Linked DNA regions of Homo sapiens: region 2 is linked to region 1. A link means that fine-mapping ties the variant in region 1 to the expression of a gene that starts in the linked region. Tissue or cell type: whole blood. Region 1 holds a variant in brackets; the other region holds the start of a gene. All regions are shown on one strand. Distances are from middle to middle.

Evidence for each region. PIP is the estimated chance that this variant, and not a neighbour inherited with it, causes the effect.
Region 2: it holds the start of TNFRSF25, and the variant in region 1 is fine-mapped to the expression of TNFRSF25 in whole blood (INTERVAL, PIP above 0.99).

Annotation. Positions count from the first base shown.
Region 1 is chr1:6,602,877-6,610,976 of GRCh38, forward strand. It overlaps LOC107984913 (a long non-coding RNA gene), which reads right to left. Exons shown (of 2, transcript XR_001737882.3): 2 at 571-1,771. Among named protein-coding and RNA genes, the nearest start is that of KLHL21, 4.1 kb to the left of the region's middle. RefSeq lists silencers at 9-398, 1,363-1,711 and enhancers at 489-578, 599-758, 799-948. The variant C/T (reference allele first, on the strand shown) is at 3,337.
Region 2 is chr1:6,461,617-6,469,716 of GRCh38, forward strand. TNFRSF25 (TNF receptor superfamily member 25) reads right to left here and starts at 4,557. Exons shown (of 10, transcript NM_003790.3): 1 at 4,453-4,557; 2 at 3,824-3,944; 3 at 3,472-3,606; 4 at 2,936-3,103; 5 at 2,759-2,837; 6 at 1,456-1,511; 7 at 1,247-1,354; 8 at 1,013-1,050; 9 at 378-558; 10 at 1-146. The coding sequence starts at 4,491. PLEKHG5 (pleckstrin homology and RhoGEF domain containing G5) reads right to left here. Exons shown (of 21, transcript NM_020631.6): 17 at 7,928-8,060; 18 at 7,719-7,834; 19 at 7,426-7,625; 20 at 6,209-6,970; 21 at 5,506-5,956. The coding sequence ends at 5,947. RefSeq lists an enhancer at 4,378-5,326.

The DNA of each region.
Region 1 (8,100 bases):
GCTAGGCACCGCTGCTATAAATAGGGCGGGGCGCCGCGGCTCTCGAGGGGCGGGATGGGCGGGGAGACGTCTGCACCGCCCCCTTAACCCCTCTGTGCCGGGCGCCACCGCCCCCCGCGAGCGCGGGCTCGCCTGTCCCCCGCGCGGCGCCCGCCCCCGGCTCCGCAGGCTGAGTCACCGCTGTCCGCGGCCGGCTCCCTCCCTCCGCCCTTCTGCGTCTCCCCGCTGACGCCCGGGCCGGGGACAGCGAGTGACAAGTGCCAGGTCCGAGGGCGGCCTCGCCGCGCGCCGGGACCGGGGGCCTCCCGGGGTTGCCCACGACCCACCCGGCCCGGCTGCTGAACCCAACCCGGGAGAGGCGAGCTCGGCCCTGAAACCAAAGCCACCCCTCCTTTCACGCCAGACTTCCCAAGGGCGCCGGCCCAGGTCCCGGGGCGGCTGGGTACAATGGCTTTTTGTTTTGCTTTTGAGTTCCACTAGTTTCAAGGGTTGCTAGTTAACCCCATCACGGGACACACTCAAAGGATAGGCTTTTTACCATTCTGGACCAAAGCAAGAACGCGTATAAAGTTTTTCGGTGACGTTTTTTTCTTGGCGCATTTATAAGCGACCCGGGGCCGGATTCCAGGAGTCGGCCCCACTCCTGTGTTCCTGAAGGAGCTTCTGACTCAATCACACAGGCGTTAACTTTAGTCGGCTTCACGCGCAGTTGTAGTTTCCGAGTCTGCGTCGCAGCTGCAGGCTCCGGGGCTGCCCGCCCTAGGGGCTCCCGGGCCTCCCTGAAGCAGCTGCTCGGACTCCACGAGAGGGTAACTGGGTATAAAGAGCGAGGGCTCAAAGTCAGATAGGAGACCGCCTTGAAACTAGATGACGCCACTAAGCACAGTCCCGCCGTCACTTGTACTGCGGTGGGGAATGGTGAAAGAAGGAATCGCCCTTATTTTAGTTCCGATAGACACAGCACCACTTTGAATGTCACTTGTAGGGGAAAAAGAGCCCTCCCTTGGAGGCCATTTTTTCCTCAGTGGAAGGTAGGCTTTGCTCAGTTTTAGAAAAGACCCCTATTTCACCACCAGGACTGCTGCTTTGCAGAGAACACTTGGGTTTGTGCTGTTTTCCAGCCCCCCTACACCGGTGGGCCTTTGAGAACGCATTCCTGAGGAAGGCGCCCGCCCACGTGGGTCCCAGAGCAGGCCACGCGCATGGGAGCTGGCTATCATTTCCTGGTTCCAGCGAGGTCTAGGGCCGCGTAGCGTTTCCAGAAGACATTTTGTTTTTATTCCACCTCTGAAATGAGAACCGCAGGCTTTCTCTTCTACTTAAGAGTTTCACGTCATTTTGCCATAAGAATGCATCTGGTCTGAATTTCAGGGTGAGCATGGGCAGCACAGGCCCAAATCAGAAAACATTCAGGTACCCAGGCGGGCCGCCTGTTGCCCATAGAAGGACTGTTCACACAGCTATTCAAGGCAGCGGCAGCATTCCTGGGCCCAGGAGCAGGGCCAATAGCTTCCTTGCACAGGCTTTGTGACAAGAAAGGCTGAGTAGCCAGGAAGTGGAATGTTTGTAGGGAAAAGAACTCCCGTCCCCTGGGTCAGCTTACCCATCTTGCGTAAGTCCAGTGATTAAATCAATAATGTTTCCATAGTTGAGGATTGAGTACGGTTTTTCTGTATTCCCAATAACAGGGATTTTTAAACATCATATTTCAGTCTTACTATGTAGCCTTGAAGAATAATGATGTATTTATTGAAATGGAAAGATGTTTGAGCTATAAAGCGAAAAATCAGATTACTCATTGTATGACCCAAATTGATTTATATGTATTCATATGCCTAAAAAAATTTATTAAGTTAACATTTTCGGCCAGGCGCCGTGGCTCACGCCTGTAATCCCAGCACTTTGGGAGGCCGAGGTGGGTGGATCACCTGAGGTAGCGAGTTCGAGACCAGCCTGGCCAATATGGCGAAACCCTGTCTCTACTAAAAATAAAACAATTATAATTAGCTGGGTGCTGTGGCGCACGCCTGTAATCCCAGCTACGCGGAGGCTGAGGCTGGGGCAAGATTTCTTGAGGCCAGGAGTTTGAGACCAGCCTGGGCAACATAGTGGGACCCAATATTTTGTCTCAACAAAAAGTTTTCAAATTGGCCAGGCGTGGTGGCATGCACCTTTAGTCTCAGCTACTTGGGAGGCTGAAGTGGGAAGATCACATAAGCCCAGATGACAGTGAGCTGTCATTGTTCCACTGCTCCCACTCTGCCTGCCCCACCCCTGAAAAAAAGAAAGAGCTAAATAGCATGCCTGGGTTAGTAGGTTATTCAAAATTCCTAACACAGCTGATAGGTCTAAATCGGTTCCTTTCTTTTCTCACCACATTCCTTTGTTGAATTATCTATATATATACATGGTTTCACATGCCTGGTAGGCCCCGGTTATCAATGAAATACTTCTTTTCTCAAGATATGAATTCTTAATTTTACTTTGAACTTAAATTAACATTAACAGATAATGTACGTGTAGTACAGAAAGAGAATGCAGGCAAGCAAAAACAAAATGAACATAACCACCTAGATGACATGTTGTTTGTTTTTTGAGACGGAGTCTCACTCTGTAGTGCACTGGCACGATCTGAGCTCACTGCAACCTCTGCCTCCAGGTTCAAACACTTCAAGCTTGAACCCGGGAGGAGGAGGTTACAATGAGCTGAGATCACGCTACTGCACTCCAGCCTGGGCGACAGAGTGAGACTTCATCTCAAAAAAAAAAAAATTAAAATTACAAAAATGGCCATTGCCTAAGCAATTTAAGATAATGTGATTTACCTGAACATTCTGAGGCTACAAATTAAAAAGTGATTTAATGTGTGATGTGATTTAACAAATAGTTATTATTTTAAAAAACAACTTAATTTTGGTATTTAAATTCTAATTTAAGGCAGACAGAGCAAGAGGTGACTAAAATTACGTTACCTTTTTTTTCTTGAGACAGAGTCTCGCTGTGTCACCCAGGCTGCAGTGCAGTGGCGCGATCTCGGCTCACCGCAACCTCTGCCTCCCGGGTTAAAGCAATTCTCCTGCCTCAGCCTTCCTGAGTGGCTGGGATTACAGGCATGCACCACCACTCTTGGCTAATTTTGTATTTTTAGTAAAGATGGGGTTTCTCCATGTTGGTCAGGCTGGTCTCAAACTCCTGACCTCAGATGATCCACCCGCCTCGGCCTCCCAAAGTGCTGGGATTACAGGCATGAGCCACCTGGTCTGGCCATGTTACCTTTTTTATTGAGACAGGATCTCCCTCTGTTGCCCAGGCTGGAGTGCAGTGGCACAATCTCAG[C/T]TAACTGCAACCTCTGCCTCCCAGGCTCAGGTGATCCTCCTACCTCAGCCTCCCCAGGAGCTGGGACTACAGGCGTGAGCCAACACGCTTGGTTAATTTTTTAAATTTTTTGTAGAGACGGGGTTTCGCTGTGTTACCCAGGTTGGTCTTAAACTCCTGGACTCAAGCAATCCTCCAGTCTTGGTGCTGAGCCAAAGTGCTGAGATTACAGGCATCAGCCACCATGCCAGACCCTAAGGTCATTTTAAAAGTGGCTGTTTACAGCCTGGCCAACGTGGTGAAACTCCATCTCTACTAAAAATACAAAAATTAGCCAAGCGCGGTGGTGCACATCTATAATCCCAGCTACTCCAGAGGCTGAGGCAGGAGAATCGCTTTAACCCAGGAGGCGGAGGTCACAATGAGCTGAGATCATGGGACTCAAGCATGGAGGACAGAGCAAGACTCCGTCTCAAAAAAAAAAAAAAAAGAGCAGCTGTTATTCTTTTTTTTTCTTTAAGAATATTTAGGAACACACTCCTTAGCCTTGATTACGTCCACAGCTATTGTGCCTTTTCTTGTATCATATCATACACTCTGATTTTTTCAGATTCCAGGTTTTCTAAGGTATAATGCACTTACCATATATAACTCCTTTTTTTTTTTCTTTTGAGACGAAGTCTCCCTGTGTCGCCTAGGTTGGAGTACAGTGGCGCAACCTCAGCTCACTGCAACCTCCGCCTCCTGAGTTCCAGTGATTCTCCTGCCTCAGCCTCTCGAGTAGCTAGGATCACAGGCACGCACCACAACACCTGGCTAATTTTTCTATTTTTTGTAGAGATGGCATTTCACCATGTTGGCCAGGCTGGTCTTGAACTCCTGACCTCAGGTGATCTGCCTACCTCAGCTTCCGCTGGGATTACAGGCATGAGCCATTGTGCCCAATCTAAACATTTTTTCTTTAAGGAATGTTGCGCTATTCTCTATTTATTAAATGCATTTACATATGTAAATGAGATAGGGTAAGTAAAAACATTTAAACAGTGTTTGACATATAGTATTAGTTATTATCTTTTTTTTTTGAAACAGAGTCTTGCTCTATTCCCCAGACTGGAGTGCAGTAGCATGATCTCGGCTCACTGCAACCTCCACCTCCCGTGTTCAAGCCATTCTCCTGCCTCAGGAGAGTAGGTGGGATTACAGGCACCTGTCACCATGCCTGGCTAATTTTTGTATTTTTTTGGTAGAGATGTGGTTTTGCCATGTTGGCCACGCTAGTCTCCAACTCCTGACCTCAAATGATCCATCTCCCTTGGCCTCCCAGTGTTCTGTGATTACAGGCGTGAGCCACAGCACCCCAGCCTTTAGCTATTAACTTTCTTTTTTCTTTTTTGGAGACAGAGTCTTGCTCTGTTGCCCAGGCTGGAGTGCAGTGGCGCAATTTCGGCTCACCACAACCTCTGCCTCCCAGGTTCAAGCGATTCTTCTACCTCAGCCTCCCAAGTAGCTGGGACTACAGGTGTGCGCCACCATGCCCAGCTAATTTTTATATTTAGTAGAGACGATGTGTCACTGTGTTGGCAAGGCTGGTCTCTAACTCCTGACCTCGTGATCCACCTGCCTCGACCTCCCAAAGTGCTGGGGTTACAGGTGTAAGCCACCATGTCCAGCTTAGCTATTACCTTTGTATTCTACCAGTATGAACTCAAGAAACTCATTTGATTCTTCTATCTGTAGGTCAGATTCACTGTGTGAAACACTGACAATATATGGTCTATAAATTATTAATGATTTCAAATGATTCACACACATATTCATACAGTTTTCAAGTTACTAAAAGCTGAAAAGAAGATTTTGTGGAATTTTCACTTTTTTCCCATCTCCTGGAAACGGAAGTGAGCAAGGCAGAAAACAGAGGGTAAAAAGAATTCCTAAGAATATACTGGGCTGGGCGTGGTGGCTCATGCCCATAATCCCAGCACTCTGGGAGGCCGAGGTGGGGAGATCGTTTGAGACCAGGAGTTCAAGATCAGCCTGGGCCATGTGGTGAAATCCCTTCTCTACAAAAAATACAAAAACAACCAGCACTTTGGGAGGCCGAGGAGGGCAGATCACGAGGTCAGGAGATCAAGACCATCCTGGCTAACGCAGTGAAACCCCATCTTTCTAAAAAAATAAAAAATTAGCCGGGCGTGGTGGCGGGCGCCTGTGGTCCCAGCTAGTCGGGAGGCTGAGGCAGGACAATGGCATGAACCCAGAAGGCGGAGCTTGCAGTGAGCCGAGATCGTGCCACTGCACTCCAGCCTGGGCGACACAGCAAGACTCCGCCTCAAAAAAACAAAAAACAAAAACAAAAAACAAAATAAGCTGGATATGCTGGTGCATGCCTGTAGTCCCAGCTACTAGGAAGGCTGAGGCAGGGGGATCACCTGAGCCCAGGAGGCCTAGGGTGCAGTGACTATAGTGAGCCGTGTTCGAACCACTGCACTCCGGGCTAAAAAAAAAAAAAAAAAAAAAGGCTGGGCGCAGTGGCTCAGGCCTGTAATCCCAGCACTTTGGGAGGCCGAGGCAGTCAGATCACCTGAGGTCAGGAGTTTGAGACTAGCCTGGCCAACATGGTGAAACTCTGTCTCTACTAAAAATATAAAAAATTAGGCTGGGTGCCGTGGCTCACACCTGTAATCCCAGCACTTTGGGAGGCCAAAATGGGCAGATCACAAGGTCAGAAGATGGAGACCATCTTGGCCAACATGGTGAAACCCTGTCTCTACTAAAATACAAAAAATTAGTTGGGCGTGGTGGCGTGCGCCTCTAGTCCCAGCTACTCGGGAGGCTGAGACAGCGGAATTGATTGAACGGGGGTGGCAGAGGTTGCAGTGAGCCGAGATCACCCTACTGCACTCCAGCCTGGCGACAGAGCAAGACTCCGTCTCAAAAAAAAAAAAAAAATTAAAAAATAAATAAATAAATAAATAAAAAATAAATAAATAAAAATTTACCGGGCGCGGTGGCACGCGCCTGTAATCCCAGCTACTTGGGAGGCTGAGGCAGGAGAATCTCTAGAACCCGGGAAGCAGAGGTTTCAGTGAGCCCAGATCGCGCCACTGCACTCAAGCCTGGGTGACAGAGCAAGACTCCGTCTCAGAAAAACAAAAACAAAAACTATTAAGCTGAACAAAAAGCTGAAACATTTGAAAAGCAAACCTTTGGTTATGCTCACACCTGCACTAAAGCACAGAGCTAAAATGGGAGACAGAAAGCTTTCTTGTATGTTCCCTCAAGTGGATGCAGTGTAGCTGCTGAGATTTAGGAAGGTGAAGCTATATTTGGTAACTCAATTAAAATAACCACATTCTCAAGTTACTTACCGGGAAACCATGGTATTCTTAGTATTTTTAACTTGTTGCAACCTGTGCTAACGTTGGCTTTTTTCCTCCTCTCCTAAGTAACTATAATCATCTGAGAATTAGTATTCAGCAGTTGGTATAATTAGTTTGTTTTTTGTTTTTAGCAGAAAACAAAGAATCATAGACTCCAAGGATCTGGCTACTGTGGTGAATGTTCTTGAACTAATCAAGGAATTTCAGATTCGCCCCCTGCAGCCCAGGAGTAGTACAATACACCTATGAAAAAAACGGGAGATACTGAACAAACCTAATCCTGTCACAGAAAATCAACTGTGTTTTTTGAGACGGAGTCTGACTCTGTCGCCAGGCTGCAGTGCAGTGGCATGATCTCCGCTCACTGCAACCTCTGCCTTCCGGGTTCACGCCATTCTCCTGCCTCAGCCTCCGGAGTAGCTGGGACTACAGATGCGTGCCACCACACCCAGATAATTTTTGTATTTTTAGTACAGACAGGGTTTCAACATGTTGGACAGGATGGTCTTGATCTCTTGACCTCGTGATTCGCCCGCCTCGGCCTCCCAAAGTGCTGGGATTACAGGCGTGAGAAAATCAACTTTATTACTCCACAGCTACATATTATGAGATCGTTTGGGTCAACTACAAGTGGTATAGTCCTTTTTCTGAATTTAGGGAAAGGATGCTAAACATTAATGTCTAAATTTCCTCCAAAGGGCTGTATTTCTAAGGGAAATGGAAAGACAAAAGAGGTCCTTTTTCTTGAAGTTTTCTCTTTCACTGGAGTAGCAGGAAGGTACAGGTCATATCTATGTACTAAAAATTACTGTTTACTAAAAACATATTCAATAAATATCTGGGTGCGGTGGCTTATGCCTGTAATCCCAGCACTTTGGGAGGCTGAGACAGGCAGATCACATGAGGCCAAGAGTTCAAGACCAGCCTGTCCAACATGGTGAAACCCCGTCTCTACTAAAAATACAAAAAATTAGCCGGGTGTTGTGGCGCATGCCTGTAATCCCAGCTCTCAGGAGGCTGAGGCAGGAGAATCGCTTGAACCCGGGAGATAGAGGTTGTGGTGAACCAGGATCACACCACTGTACTCCAGCAGGGGCAACAAGAGTGAAACTGTCTCAAAAAAGAAAGAAGAATAAACTCTCAAATTGGAAATGAAGGACCTACTCAGAATAATGGACTTGTTGACAAAACTGAGCTTAGAATTCACAGGCCTATATTGGACTACTTGGTTACATCAAGGAAGGAAAATCCCAAACATGGATTGAGTCAGGGGACAGATTTTCAGACTCAAGTGATAACTTTTGCTCAGAGTGGGTATTCACTCCAGGCAGGCAAGATAGCTCAGGACTGTAAACTCTACAATTTGGGAGGCCTGGGTGGGAGGATCCCTTGAGCCCAGGAGTTC
Region 2 (8,100 bases), 140 kb before region 1:
GCGCAGCCCCAGCGTGCGCACGAACTCCTTCCAGCGCCGCGCTGGGACCGCGTCCATCACGTCGTAGAGCTGCGGGCCCGGCTGCAGCATCATGGCTGGCGAGCCGGCTGGGGACTCTGGCGAGAGTGTGGGCGCAGCAGCGGGGCCTGGGGCAGGGCCAGAGAGAGCCAATTGGGGTACGTGGGCCGCGGTCGGGAGGCAGAGTCAGGGGCGTTCGTGCGGGTACCCCAGGGCTGAAGCCCGCTGGATCCGGTGGGTCAGGGCATAGGGCGGACTCCGTCAGTTAGGGGGCAGAAAGGGAACACGTTGTGAAACCACAACTTCCCACCGCAGACAGGAGAATGGGGTCAAGGCCTCAGGCCACTGATGTCCCTTACCAAGAGCTCTGCTGGGCAACTGGTCCCAGGACCATGTCACCTGCGGGCAGAGCGCCTCCTGGGTCTCGGGGTAGCCAGGGGTCCAGCTGTTACCCACCAACTGGACGGTGCAGATCTTCTCACTGCTGTCAGGAGGTGCTAGAAGGGTGTGGGCGCTGTCCAAGGGTGACAGATGGGTGGCCTGGAAGCCAAGAGGGGCCCCAGGTCAGCCCTGCTTGCCAAGTAAGGCCCCTTACCCGCAGTGCCTCTCCAGGAGGGGACAGTCCCTGGTTCAGTCAGCAGACACCCCCGCAATGACACCTCCCACAGTTGGCCCTGCTCTCACTGTAGCCCAGCAGAACTCTTGCTTCTGCCTTGAGTCCCCTGCCCCCGCCTCCTTCCTCTTGTCCCCCAGCACCATGGGGCTCTCCTTCCATTGAACTGTTAGCTCCTGTGTACGAATCTGAACTCCAGCTGACTGAGCACCCCTTGAGGGCAGGCACTGTGCTGGTCTCATCCACTGATGACTCTGCTCCCAACACCTCTGTCCACTAGGGCTACCCGGTGCTGGCCGCGTGCCAAGCTCCAGGGATCATAGTAAGGCTTGATCTTCCAGCTCCAGAAGGCAGCCCAGAATCACACAGTGAGGTTCTTACCGGTGGTGGGGTCAGAGCCTCCATCCCAGCTTCATCTGCTGACAGACACAGAGAGATTGCGGTCAGCCACCAGGCAAGCCTCCTGGACCTGGGTGCTGGTACAGCTCCTCTAGGGTTCCTCTGCACCCCACACTCCCTGCCTCAGTTTCCCCTTCTGTATCAGGGTTGAGTAGACTCTGGGCTACCCATCCTGACCCCAGGCTTCTGGGTGCGTGTGTGGGTGTGTGTACTTACCAGTAACCAGGGGCTTGTGAGGCCAGCAGTGGCGGTATGTGTAGGTCAGGGTGGCCCCAAGCAGGAGGGGGACCACAAGGCCAGCCAGGAGCACCTGGACCCAGAACACTGAAAGCAGCTGGTGGGTGTTGGGTGGTTGCCCCCCTCCTCACCCGCCTCCCCTCGGTCCATCCCAGTTCTCCCACTCGCATTCCCAGCACACCACCTACTCTGCCTCCAGCCACAGACAGCGGCACAGCGCTCTGGACAGCTCCCCAGGGTGCTCCTGCAAGGGACGGGGGTGGCCTGAGGGATGAGGGGGTGCATGCCAGGAGGGGCTCCCTAAGACTGCCCAGCATCTGCTCCATCCTAGAGACCCTTCCCTCCCCAGGCCTCTCACTCTACCCAAGAATGTTCCTGTCATTGTGTCCCTGGTAACAACCACAGACACTATTCACTGAGCTTCTTCTAGACTACATGAAGAGTCACTAGAATGTCAACCCCAAAAGGACAGGGATTTTGCCTATTTTGTCCCCTGTTGCATCCCCAGCACCTAGAACAGTGTGTAGAACATAGCAGATATTCAATAAAGACTTGAATGGAGGCCGGGCGCGGTGGCTCATGCCTGTAATCCCAGCACTTTGGGAGGCCAAGGCGGGTGGATCACGAGGTCAGGTGATCAAGACCATCTTGGCTAACACGGTGAAACCCCGTCTCTACTAAAAATACAAAAAATTAGCCGGGGGTGGTGGTGGGCTCCTGTAGTCCCAGCTACTTGGGAGGCTGAGGCAGGAGAATCACTTGAACCCAGGCAGCAGAGGTTGTAGTGAGCCAAGATCGTGCCACTGCACTCCAGCCTGGGTGACAGAGCAAGTCTCCATCTCAAAAAAAAAAAAAAAAAAAAAAAAAAAAGACTTGAATAGCTACAGAAAGTCCCTTACCTCTGATCAAAGGCCTGTGAATTAGCTGCTAACATCCCATGTTGAGAAAGGGACACCACACATCAGAGACGCGAATTCTCTGCACTTGCCCAAGATCCCCTAGAGAACTAGCAGCACAGTCCTGACTCTCAGCCCTTTGTATTTATTTATTTAATAGATTTAATATTTAATATTTAATAGATTTAATATTTATTTATTTATTTAATAGGTCTCGCTCTGTTGCCCAGGCTGAAGTGCAGTGGCACGATCATAGCTCACTGCAGCCTCAACCTCCTTCAGCCCAAGTTTTAAAGCTATATCAATGTGACTCTCTGTGTAAGTGACAAATCATCTGTAATATCTGGCTAGGATCGCTGGGGGGAATGCTGGCTGAAAGTGAAGGCAAATACCCTTATGTATCTGGCTAAGGCGGATCCAGATTGCTCTTTTGCCATCTAAGTTTGCCTGAAGTGGGGCCCACCCATCACAGGGCCAAGGCTCCCTCCTCCCTATCCCCTCTTCCTATTCCTGAACCAGCAGCACCTGCCCCACCCCAGGCCCCTGCTCTGCTCCCAGCCGCCCTTCCCTCCATCCCACGACAGCTAGGAATTACGTGGGGCAGGACACGCAGCCATCGCCATGTTCATAGAAGCCAGGCAGGCAGGTCCCACAGTCAGTATCTCTGCGGGAACCTGCAATCCAGGAGAGGCATGCGTCACCATGGGACAGGAGTGGGTCAGGCAGGGAGAAGGGGGTCTGGGAGTAGAGAGCCCTGGGTGGGGGTACTCACAGAGTAGCCGTGTGTGGCGGTGCAGGGCCCCGCAGTCTAGGCATGGTTGGCAGTAGAAGGGTGAACTGCTGACACATTGGCTGACCTGGCACTCCACAAACCAGCCTGGCTTACAGCCACAGCGGGTGTCGGCCACTGCTGAACAGTTCTCCAGCGCCACCTGGGAGGCTGGTGGGGGTGCAGGGAGATGGGGAGTGGAGAGTTAGTCAGGGCCAAAGGCTCCCATGGAGAGGCAGAGGCATTATCCCAAGATAATGGAGACAGAAATAGGCGAAAGACAGACAGGTACAGGGCTACCCTAAAAAAGAGAGAAGCTCAGAGATTAAGGCCGACCAGAGGCCAAGGCACATGGAGAGATGGGAAGGTCACCAGGAAGAGAGAAGGGGCAAGGGCACCCTGAAGGAGGATCAGGGTGGAGGGTTCTGGCAAGGGTGGGTGCAGGACCCTCACACCCCAAGTTTGGGCCCGAGCCAGCCACTTCCTTCAGAAAGGCCTGTCCTTAGGAACTCCCTGCCAAGCACTGAGAAGCCCCTCACCCTGCTCATCACAGGCCTGGCAGCGGGCACATTCAGAATTATGGTGGTTCTCCCAGGCCAAGAAGGTGTCTTGGGGACACACAAGGCAGGTGGAGTTGCCGCAGGGCTCCGTGCAAGGGGCCTTCAGGTAGTGCCCTGTGGAACCAGGCAGGGGTCAGGCAGGCAGAGGGGCTGCCCAGCAACCCCCGACCTGCTTCCCACCCTGCCCTCCCTCCCTCTTTCTCTCCAGCTCCCTACTTCTCTGTCAGCCTACCCCTACCTCCCCTGCCAGCCTCCTCTTACCTCCCGGGCCTGCCCGCCACCTCTCCAGCCCTGCCTGCCCCATGCCTCTCCCACCCCTGTGGCCACTTACCCGCTGGGCAGCCTCTGCAACAAAACAGACCAATCTTCTTGTGGAAGTCACCGGCACAGTCACACCTGGGGCTACGAGTGCCGCCCTGGGCCCGGGCCCCCAGCAGCACCAGGAGGAGCGCCTGGGGGACAGGTGCTGCTGACTCTCAGCGCAGCTGCCCACGTGGGGCCTCTCCCTGCTGCGTCTCCTCCATTTCAGAGGCCCCAGCATTTGCCCACAGAGCAGCCCACTTCCCAGGCCCCGGGCAGAAGGGGTGCCCATGGGTGGAGAGGAAACTAACTTCCTTCCCCCCGCGCACACACCAGGCTTCGGAGGGGGCGCTTACCAGCCCCTCACAAGTTTCCCCTCCACCAGAGCAGGAATCCAGCAGCGCCCCCACCCCCACCCATGCTTTCTGTTGGGGGAGGGACACTGATAATGCTCTGCCTGGGGCCCCCAGACCCTCCTGGGAGGGGTTTCCTCTCAGTGGAAGGGCTACGCCCTGGAGGAGCCTTTAACGAGATCGGAAAGGGCGGCCAACCCAGCCCCCAGTGAGGCTTGGAGTGGAGACGCGCCCGGGGCCCCTTCCTTCACCGAGGCTCTTGGGACAGGGCTCAAAGCTGCCCCTAGCCTCCTGCGTCTCAACTCACCGCCGCCACCGCCGCGCAGCCCCGCGGCCGCTGCTCCATAGCCCTCCGACGGGCGCCCAGGGGCTTCCCGGCTCCGTGCTCTCTGCCCGTCGTGGTTCCGCCTTCAGCCCCGCGCCCGCAGGGCCCGCCCCGCGCCGTCGAGAAGGGCCCGCCTGGCGGGCGGGGGGAGGCGGGGCCGCCCGAGCCCAACCGAGTCCGACCAGGTGCCCCCTCTGCTCGGCCTAGACCTGAGCTCATTAGGCGGCAGCGGACAGGCCAAGTAGAACACGCGAAGCGCTGGGCTGCCTGCTGCGACCAGGGGCACAGGATAGAGCTGCATCTCGGTCCCCACCCCGACTCTCGCCCCAACCCTGAGAACCACTTCAAGGTAGAGCCAGGGCAAGTGACTTCTCTCTCGGCCTCCGCGTCCCCAGCCATGGAGGAGGTTGGGCCAAAAGTACCGCAAGGGGCCAAGCGCAGTAGCTCAGGCCTGTAATTCTAGCACTATGGGAGGCAGAGGCGGGCGGAACACTTGGGGTCAGGAGTTCGAGACCAGCCTGACCAATATGGTGAAATGCCGTCTCTACTTAAAATACAAAAACTAGCCCGGCGTGGTGGTGCACACCTGCAGTTCCAGCTACTAGAGTGGCTGGGGCAGGAGAATCGTTTGAACCCGGGAGGCAGAGGTTGCAGTGAGCCGACATCACACCACTGCACTCCAACCTAGGTGACAGAGTGAGACTCTGTATTAAAAAAAAAAAAAAAGTTCCTGAAGGGACCCCCATGGAGGACCCACCTTCCCAAGAGGGCTGGCCTGAGTGTGGGAACTGGGCAGATTCAGCCCTGAATCCCCGGGGGGCACCTGGGGAGAGGCTCTGATGGTGGCTGAAGGTGGGGAAGTCTGGGGGTGTTGGTCTGGTGGCACCCCACACCCCATTACTTCCCAGTGCTTCCCATGGCAAGCTCCATCCGTGGCCCATCCGTGGCAAGTGGAGGAGCACAGGAACACAAGGAGGCCGCCCTGAACTCAAGTGCCCCGAGTCACTGGGCCCCAAAGCAAAGGACTCTTCCCAGTGGAGTCTAGACAAGTCTTTATAAAAGAACCAAAAGCTCAATAAATACGTAACTTCACAGAACCCAGCCCAAGCCAGGGGTGGCCTGTGGGACTGGGAAGGTGGGGGCAGGGCAGGAGTGAATCCCACTGGAGGCCAGTGAGGGTAGAAGTAGGATGGGCAGCCTAGGAGCCCAGCCCTGAAGACTCGAGCTGAGCTGGTAACTTCGGGGAGTAGGTGACGAGGGGCTGCCTGGGCAGGTGGGGTGGTACTGTGGCCTGGGCCTCCTCCACTCCATCCAGTCCGGCAAAGCGCAAATCGGGCCCGGGCGTAGGCAGGGATCCTGCCCAGCATCCGGCTCATGCATACAGGAGGCAGTAGCTGAAGCAGGTGCCGGCACGCCCCAGGAGGCAGGCTGTCTGCTGTCTCTTGGTCAATGGCACTCTTGGGGGCCTCCCTCTGCTCAGACCTCCCTACAGGGTGGGGAGGGGACAGAGTCCTTCTTTGGCTGACGCCATTCAGAGTGGCTCTGGTCACCCTCTCTTCCCCACGGCACTCCTCAGGCCCCTTCACTGCTGCCCACCACAGCCCCCTGCGCCCAGACACTGGGCAGGGTTCAGGCTCCCTCCGCCATGACCCTCCCCAAATGCGATGCTCCCAGGCATGAGTGGGCCCCCATGCCAGTGCCCTGAGCCACCTGCCCTACCCCAGTCCAGGCCACTCACGAGGCAGTGAGCGTGGAGTTAAGCAGCAGGGTGGTCCTGATTCGGTAGAGCTGGGCCAGGGTCAGCTTCCTGTGCTGGGCAGAGACCCCTGGTGGGGGCTCAGGCTGGACCCTGGGAGAGGCCCCCGAGGGCAGGTCTCCACACCTCTTCCTGTGGGAGCCTGCAGGTTCCCCGGCCAGGCAGCCGACTAGCCCAGGACCGCTGCCAGGGCTAGGGGCCCCTCGGCAATCCCAGCTGGGCCCAGCTTCCTGAGGGGAGCCCTGAGTCCTAATACCTGGGGCTGGAACAGCCAGGCAGAGCTCTGACAGGCTGCGGCTGGGGGCAGAGGGTGTCCCATGGGTGCCAGCCCCTGCCAGCAGCTGGAGGAGGCTGGCCTCGGACTTAGACTTGAGCAGGTGGGGCGGGCAGCTCAACAGCTGGACAGGGGTGCGGCGGCGGAGACGGGGCGAGGGTGGAGGGGAAGGAACTCGTGGGGACTCTGGGGCCCGAGGCACTAGCTCTGCCATTGGGCCTGGGGCCACAAAGTCTTGTAAGGAGGTTGGGGAGAGGGTGCCGTAGGCAGAGTCCATGGAGCAGGAGCGGCCGTCCACCGGACCCAGGGGCAGCAGCTCACTGGTGGGCGTGGCAGATGAGGCAGTGGTGCTGAGAGAGGTCTCATCAGACTGGGAGCTGAAAGGACCGCTGTCGAACTCGGGGGAGGACAGCGTGTCCCCAGGCTCTACCACAACCATGGCCAGGGTCTCCGTGGAGCCATCTGAGGCACTGTGGGGCCAGGAGCAGAGTCAGCCCAGGCCATGAAACCTAGATGGCCTGAGGCAGCCCCAGGCTGGGCAATGCACGGTGGTTTATACCCTCTGCCCTCCTGGGGCTGGAGGCTCAGAGATGGCAGCATGTGGCAGGTGTGGCAGATCTTCCAGCTCCAGTGCCCACAACAGACCTCAGTAGCGAGCCCAGCACTCTTCCCTGCCAAGGCTGGATCTGCCCTAAGGATCCTCAGCACAGCACCCCAGGCAGCTACCACGAATGGATCAGGGCTGGCAGCACATGGAAAGGTGTCTGCCCTCCCCACCCGGACTCTGGGGGAGACAGAGCCCCGCTCCCACAGTGTTCATGACAAGAGGCCATTGGGAGGAAGGGAGCGTGGCTGGGCCTTCAGGAGTCCTGGGCTAGAGTACTTGTCCTGGTTTGACCTGCTGGGTGGTCATGAGCAGACGTACCAGTGCTGAGAGTCGGGGCTGCCGCTGCTTTTCCGCATGATGGTAGGGGAGCTGGCAGCTGAAGTGCCACTGTCCTCGCCTTCCTCCTCCTCCTCCTCCTCCTCCTCTTCCTCCTCCTGCTCATCCTCCTCCTCTTCCAGGCTCTGCAGGGGCTGCTGACTGCCTGGGGGCTCCTGTGCACGCAGCTGTTGCAGCTGGTTCTGCAGGCAAGGTTGGGGTACATGGGACAGAATGGGTTGTGACCAGCATCTCCCTAATCTGCCTTGCCCACCCACTCACTACTCTGCACTCACCTGGGCATTGTAAATGGTGTCCACCCAGCCACGGCACAAGGCCTGGCCACTGGCCTGGAACGTGTAGGCCCCTACAGCACTGTGAAACTCATTCAGGTAGATAAGGAGGAAGGACCCTGGTTAGGGAAGGCCCAAGTCAGTGTCAGCAGAGACGATGGCCCCCACCCATCACAGCCCCTGACCAGGAACAGGGGACCAGGGCTCCTTACCAGGGTCCCGTAGCTCCCGGCACACAATCTTGTCCACGAGCAGGGGTGGCCTGATGACCCTGGTCCTCTCTGCCTTCTTCACTGCTTTGGTCACCAACAGCAGATCCGTGAAGAGGAAGCAGTACACATCCATCTGCAGTGGCAGGAGGGGGGGTGGCCAGAGAGGCCAGCAG